Homo sapiens: one gene and its partner. The protein of the gene in region 1 purifies or fractionates together with the protein of each later gene. This does not show direct contact. Each region holds a gene or a part of one and is shown in the gene's direction. Other genes may lie near its edges.

The links.
Region 2: the proteins of GSTM2 (region 1) and SAR1B purify together in Homo sapiens (co-immunoprecipitation; one large-scale study listed by IntAct). This does not show direct contact.

The regions. Positions count from the first base shown.
Region 1 is NC_000001.11:109,673,291-109,675,979, forward strand, and holds the end of GSTM2 (glutathione S-transferase Mu 2), read left to right. Parts: intron 1-1,456; coding exon 1,457-1,546; 3' UTR 1,547-1,996; downstream 1,997-2,689. UniProt on the Homo sapiens protein: Conjugation of reduced glutathione to a wide number of exogenous and endogenous hydrophobic electrophiles. Participates in the formation of novel hepoxilin regioisomers.
Region 2 is NC_000005.10:134,608,713-134,612,536, reverse strand, and holds part of SAR1B (small COPII coat GTPase SAR1B), read left to right. Parts: intron 1-2,862; coding exon 2,863-2,966; intron 2,967-3,824. UniProt on the Homo sapiens protein: Small GTPase that cycles between an active GTP-bound and an inactive GDP-bound state and mainly functions in vesicle-mediated endoplasmic reticulum (ER) to Golgi transport.

The DNA.
Region 1 (2,689 bases):
GGGAGATGCATAGATGACAGCCCCATCCTGGAAATGAGTGCAGTGAGAGGCCTGCAGGCAGAGCAGCCTGTGAAGTGTGTGCTGAACTTGTTTGAGAGCAGCAAATCCTACATTACTACAGATTTGGGGATTTGAGGCATTTGTCCAACAGGCTTCTGAGCCTTGAATCTGTTTCCCTTTTCCACTCCCCATCAAGAGATCTGCTTGCTCAGCTAGTTCCCATCAGCTCTGGTTCTGCGGTTCTGGTCCAGGCTGAGTGGCCTTGGAGTTAGGTAAGAGGTGGTGGGAAGGGAGGGATGGAGGAGAGCTGAGAGCTATGGCCCGTTATGTGCCAGGGTCAAGCCTGTCACCCAGGCTGGAGTGCATTGGTGCGATCTTGGCTCACTGCAACCTCCGCTTCCTGGGTTCAAGCAATTCTCTGCCTCAGCCTACCAAGTAGCTGGGATTACAGGTGCCCGCCACCATGACCAGCTAATTTTTGTATTTTTAGTAGAGATGGGTTTTCACCATGTTGGCCAGGCTGGTCTCCAACTCTTGACCTCAGGTGATCCACTCGTCTCGGCCTTCCAAAGTGCTGGGATTACAGGTGTGAGCCGGATGTTTTTGAATACCTTATCTGGGCATTCAATCCTGGTAAGATTGTGCACAGCACATCTGAGTGTCATGTAGCCTGATCTGCAGCAGGGCTGGAGATGCCATGGGTTAGGGCACAGTGAGATTTTGCTAAGATACCAGATGGAGAACCTTGGACTTTCTGCTTTAAGGGGAATGATTAGAGCCTAGTCTCGCCTTTGATTTTCTTGTGCACTGCCACTCCCCATTCCACTTTCATCCAGGTTTTACTGAGACATTGGGTGAGTGTGTTCAGAGCCCCTTTGTTCTGCTGGAGGTCCCTTCTGTGTCTCTATACCCAGACAAGCCAAGAGCCTCCCTGTGGAAAAGGAGACTGTTTGTGCAGTCAAGGAGTGACAGGGCCTGGTGTGAGGGGTGGTGGGGCAGAAGAAGAAGAGAATTTGGCAGAAAGAGGCCAGAACTGGAGAGAGACAGAACCAGGCTACATTGAAGTTCTATTCCCCTTACTAGGTATTTAAATGTAAGGAAGTTGCTGAACTTCTGTTTCCCACATGACAAATGGTGATAATAGATTCAGCCTTGCAGAGTAGTCGAGTGGGTTTTCTAAGCTTACGTTGTAATTTCTCTTGGGTACAGAGCACCCAGCACCGTGTAGAATCTTCATAAGTGTTAGCTGTTACTGTGGTACAACATTACTTAAAGGAAGTTGGAAGAGTTAACTCCGCAGATCTGGGGACCCTAAGAAGCTGTGTGATGCCTCAGCACTTGAGCCCACATGGAAAGGCTGTGGCCAGGGCCCTGACCTGCTGTGTCTGCAGTGGGGTTGTGCCAGCCCTCATGGGCAGCTGACCTTGAGTTCTGGCCTTATTTTCCCCCCTCTCAGGGCTTGGAGAAGATCTCTGCCTACATGAAGTCCAGCCGCTTCCTCCCAAGACCTGTGTTCACAAAGATGGCTGTCTGGGGCAACAAGTAGGGCCTTGAAGGCCAGGAGGTGGGAGTGAGGAGCCCATACTCAGCCTGCTGCCCAGGCTGTGCAGCGCAGCTGGACTCTGCATCCCAGCACCTGCCTCCTCGTTCCTTTCTCCTGTTTATTCCCATCTTTACTCCCAAGACTTCATTGTCCCTCTTCACTCCCCCTAAACCCCTGTCCCATGCAGGCCCTTTGAAGCCTCAGCTACCCACTATCCTTCGTGAACATCCCCTCCCATCATTACCCTTCCCTGCACTAAAGCCAGCCTGACCTTCCTTCCTGTTAGTGGTTGTGTCTGCTTTAAAGGGCCTGCCTGGCCCCTCGCCTGTGGAGCTCAGCCCCGAGCTGTCCCCGTGTTGCATGAAGGAGCAGCATTGACTGGTTTACAGGCCCTGCTCCTGCAGCATGGTCCCTGCCTTAGGCCTACCTGATGGAAGTAAAGCCTCAACCACATTTGCTGTGTGTCTTGTCTTATTTGCTCCTGGCCATCTACCCAGACTGTCTGTCTGTCTGTCACTGCCTCTTCCAAGGGACTGGCTGGTGATCCTGGCAGTGGCTGGGTTCTAAAGGATTCTGCTGGGCATAGTAAGGCGCTTGAGAATTCTTGCTCCCATTCCTGAGAGACTCAGAGCAGGAAGCCCCATGAGGCACTGTGGAAAGGATGTCTCTTTCTTGGCCTGGATCTCCCATTCATTCATCCAGCCGTATTGAGTACTTTCCATAATTGCACAGAGCTTGTGTCTCATTGAATAGGACCCCAAGGGGGTGGAATCTCCATCAGAGAGAACCAGGGTCCCTTTTACCTTCTCCACTATATGACTGCATCACTTCTGTTAGGTCTCCAGGACCCAATCTCTATTGTTTTTCTCAGATGGCTTCCAGGTACCCTCTCCAGGCTTGCTGCACAGCTGTCATCAGGACGTTCTCTCTGGGTTTACTTCCTCTCTTTCCTGGGTACCTGTGAGAGAAATGTCTTTAGTCCTTGCATAACTGAAAGTGCCTTTACATGCTTACTGAATACTCTGGCTGAGGATTTAGTCTGTTCTCACGCTGCTAATAGAGACATACCCGAGACTGGGTAATTGATAAAGGAAAGAGGTTTAAAGGACTCACAGTTCCACAGGGCCTGGGAGGCCTCATAACCAT
Region 2 (3,824 bases), on another chromosome or scaffold:
AATAGCTGGGATTACAGGCATGTGCCACCGCGCCCAGCTGATTTTTGTATTCTTAGTAGAGATGGGATTTCGCCACGTTCAAGGTAAGATTCTCTTACTCTTACAGTCACTTTGTTTTATTTTAACTTAACAAAAATGTGGCCATTAGTTCTAGTGCATGAAATCTCATTCTAGTCACGCAAGGCCAGAGTAGATTTAAAATTTAGGGATTATTACTCCCCGATAAATACTTTAAAAGCAAAGGGTGATTTTCATGATACTTCTGGCCAATTCAAATGAGAATTGCTTTTGGTGGTAAAGTGTATGAGTAAAATTAACTTCCATTCTCTCTACTTCAATCTACCTCTCACTGTCATAATCATGTTTTGAACATGTTACTGCTCTGTAAAACAAAAACAAAACAAAACAAAACAAAAAAACCTTCAGTGGCTAACTCATTACTTACAAAATAAAGGCCAAACTCATTAACCTGGCATTCAGGATCTCTATGATCTGGTCCCAGTTTACTTTTCTGGGCTTTTAAAAATTATCTTATAGAGACAGGGTCTCACTCACTATGTTGCCCAGGCTTGTCTCCAACTCCTGGGCTCAAGCAATCCTCTCATCTCAGTCTCCCAAAAGTTGGGATTATAGGTGTGAGCCACCACATCTGGCCTACTTTTCTTTTATTTCCCTCTATTCCCCTTCCCGTTCTTTTTGCTTCAACCAAATCAGACCTTCTTGGTGTTTTCCTCTGTGCTTTTGTTCATGCCATCCCCATCCGCACATGAGTAACCCCTTTAGGCCCCAGCGTATGCCCTGCTACCTCCCTTGGGAAGCCATTCTCAGTTGGAGTGCTCTCAGCTATACTTCATAGCACTTAGTATATTTGTGTACATGTCTACAACAAGTTTGGAAAGACTGCCTTATCTCTTATATTAAACTTGCGGGGACTAAAATCCTGTTTTTTGTTTTGTTTTAATTAAAAAAAATTTTTTTTGTAGAGATGGGGTCTCACAATCTTGCCCAGGCTGATTTTGAAGTCCTGGCCTCAAGCAATCCTCCTACCTCAATTTCCCAAAGTGCTGGGATTACAGGTGTGAGCCACCACACCTGGCCTGTTCATTTTTTATATCCCCAAAAGTACTTGGCAACATCTACCTCATAGTAAGTCATAACTAACCAATATTACCGAATTGGTGGGCATTCTAAAAACCTGATGCGACATATAGTTGAAAAGATTGTAAATGGTTCTGGCTAGTGAAAGCACATTTGAGACATGTAATTGTCTGGCATATACACAAAATAATTTCTGGAATACGATGATTAGAATTGGAATCTAATGGAATTTGTCTGAGACTTCATTTCTATGTTGTTTCAAGATATGTCATAATGGCTGGGTGTGGGGTCTCAGGCCTATAATCCCAGTGCTTTGAGAGGCTGAGGTTGGGAGGATCACTTGAAGCCAGGAGTTCAAGACCAGCCTTGCAACATAGCAAGACCCTGTCTCTACACAGAATTTAACAATTAATGGGGCATAGTGATAGACACTGATAGTCCTACCTACTCAGGAGGCTGAGATGGGACTATGACTTGAGCTCAAGAGTCTGAGGTTGCAGTGAACTAGCCTGGATGACAGAGCAAGACCCTGTCTCTTTAAAAAAAAAAAAAAAAGGTATGTCATAAAACTCAAGTCAGTGAAGAAAGTTATGTTATGGAAAAAATTACTCTTATGATTTCATAGACTTCAGTTAATTATTAACATTTGAGCTTCTTTTCTGAGTAAAACAATTTTGTTTTGGTTTTTTTTTAATTATTTTTTTTGAAACAGAGTCTGGTTCTGTCTCCCAGGCTGGAGTGCAGTGGCATGATCTTGGCTTACTGCAGCCTCTGCCTCCTGGGCTCCATCCTCCCACCTCAGCCTCCCAAGTAGCTGGGCAGGCACACACCACCACACTTTCTAATTTTTTTTTTTTTTTTTTTTTTTTTTTGAGACGGAGTCTCTCTCTGTCACCCAGGCTGGAGTGCAGTGGCATGATCTCGGCTCACTGCCACCTCCACCTCCCGGGTTCAGGTGATTCTCCAAGCCTGGCTAATTTTTGTATTTTTAGTAGAGACACAGGGTTTCACTATGTTGGCCAGGTTGGTCTCCAACTCCTGACCTCAGGTGATCCACCTGCCTCAGCCTCCCAAAGTGCTGGGATTACAGGCATGAGCCACTGTGTCCGGCTTGGCTAATTTTTTGTGTTTTTTTGTAGAGATGAGGTTTCACTATGTTGTCCAGGCTGGTCTTGAACTCCTGAGCTCAAGCAATCCACCTGCCTTGGCCTTCCAAAGTGCTGGGATTACAAGTGTGAGCCACCACACCCGGCCTTATTATTTTAACAAGCTTGTACCTGATATTAATTTCCTTCTGTCACTCATTCCAAATTTATCACTGGCAAAAAAAATCTGATAACTAGAAATGTCAAAAAATGAACACTGCATATATATGTAATATAAATACACACATTTTATGTATATATAATCACATATATGTAGTTTTTTTACTGCTTATATTTTAGATCTAGTAGCAGTCCTCCAATGAACTTAACGTGTATTTTTTTTTATTTTTATTTTTATTTTAAATATTCTACTCCTTACATATGATAATTGGAAGAGACTAAAGTATTTGACTTGCCCACAGTCAAGGAAAGCCTGAAATTCCCTCTTAGTTATTCTCAGAAGAATTTGGCACCACTGGGTAAAAGATTAACTTGAATATATTGTGAAGTACCAGCAGCTAAGGGATTACCGCACTTGATATCTGGTTGGACTCTTTGCTTAAACCATCTGCTGGGTTTGACCAACAAGTAAACTCTAACCCCTGATTGTTTTTGTTAGCTCGAAGAGTGTGGAAAAACTACCTTCCTGCTATCAATGGCATTGTATTTCTGGTGGATTGTGCAGACCACGAAAGGCTGTTAGAGTCAAAAGAAGAACTTGATGTAAGTTAAATAACTGAAACTAAATATAGTCAAATCACTCTGGTAAGCCTGCAGAAGTAGGTCAGAGATACAGGTATCAGAGTGCAGCTTTTCTGCAGTCTCTGATGAAACTCTTGGCAATTTGTTGAGCTCAGTGATTGCTTTAAGTAGTGATTACTTAGAATGCAGAGGGAGTAACTGAGTAATTGTAGCTATTGAGGAAGTACTAACACAGACATCTTTTATGAAGACTTAAGAAGCTCACCCTGTACAGAATGTACCCTTTTAGTATATTTCATGTCTGTTATATTCCTGGAGTGGGTTGATCTTGAGTCCCTGGTCATGCTAAGATGCTATATCTTAAGCCACAGCCTGGAAATGATAGGACATGCCATCTTTGACACTACTCCCAGGAGTGAGCAGAGGCATATGTAGCTACCTCCCCTCCAGTATCCCAGGTCAGATATTTTGTAAAGGGGCCCAACAGCAGCAGGCAAGGTCAGCACCAGATCTGGGGCCACAGAGTAAGCAGGTCCATGATTTGATTGAAGGTTGATCATACCATGGCTCTGCCCAGAGCAGGCAAACAAATACTTGTACGTGTGGAAAAGTCCAGGTAGGTTCTATGGTTACAAAACAAGGACAGAGAATGCCTGAGTTCCTACTTTGTTCCAGAGACTGTGCGTATTACTTGATTTAATTCTCAATTTCATAGGGTGGATGCTACTGTTCCTAATTCTCTCTAGAGCTTCAGTCAGGCTAACTTGCCCAAAGTCACATCTCAAAAGCAGTAGAGCCAGAAGTGAAACCACATCTGTTCACTTCTAAGGTGCTGGCTCTATACGTTCTATGTCACTCCTTTAAAGGATGAGCAGAGTA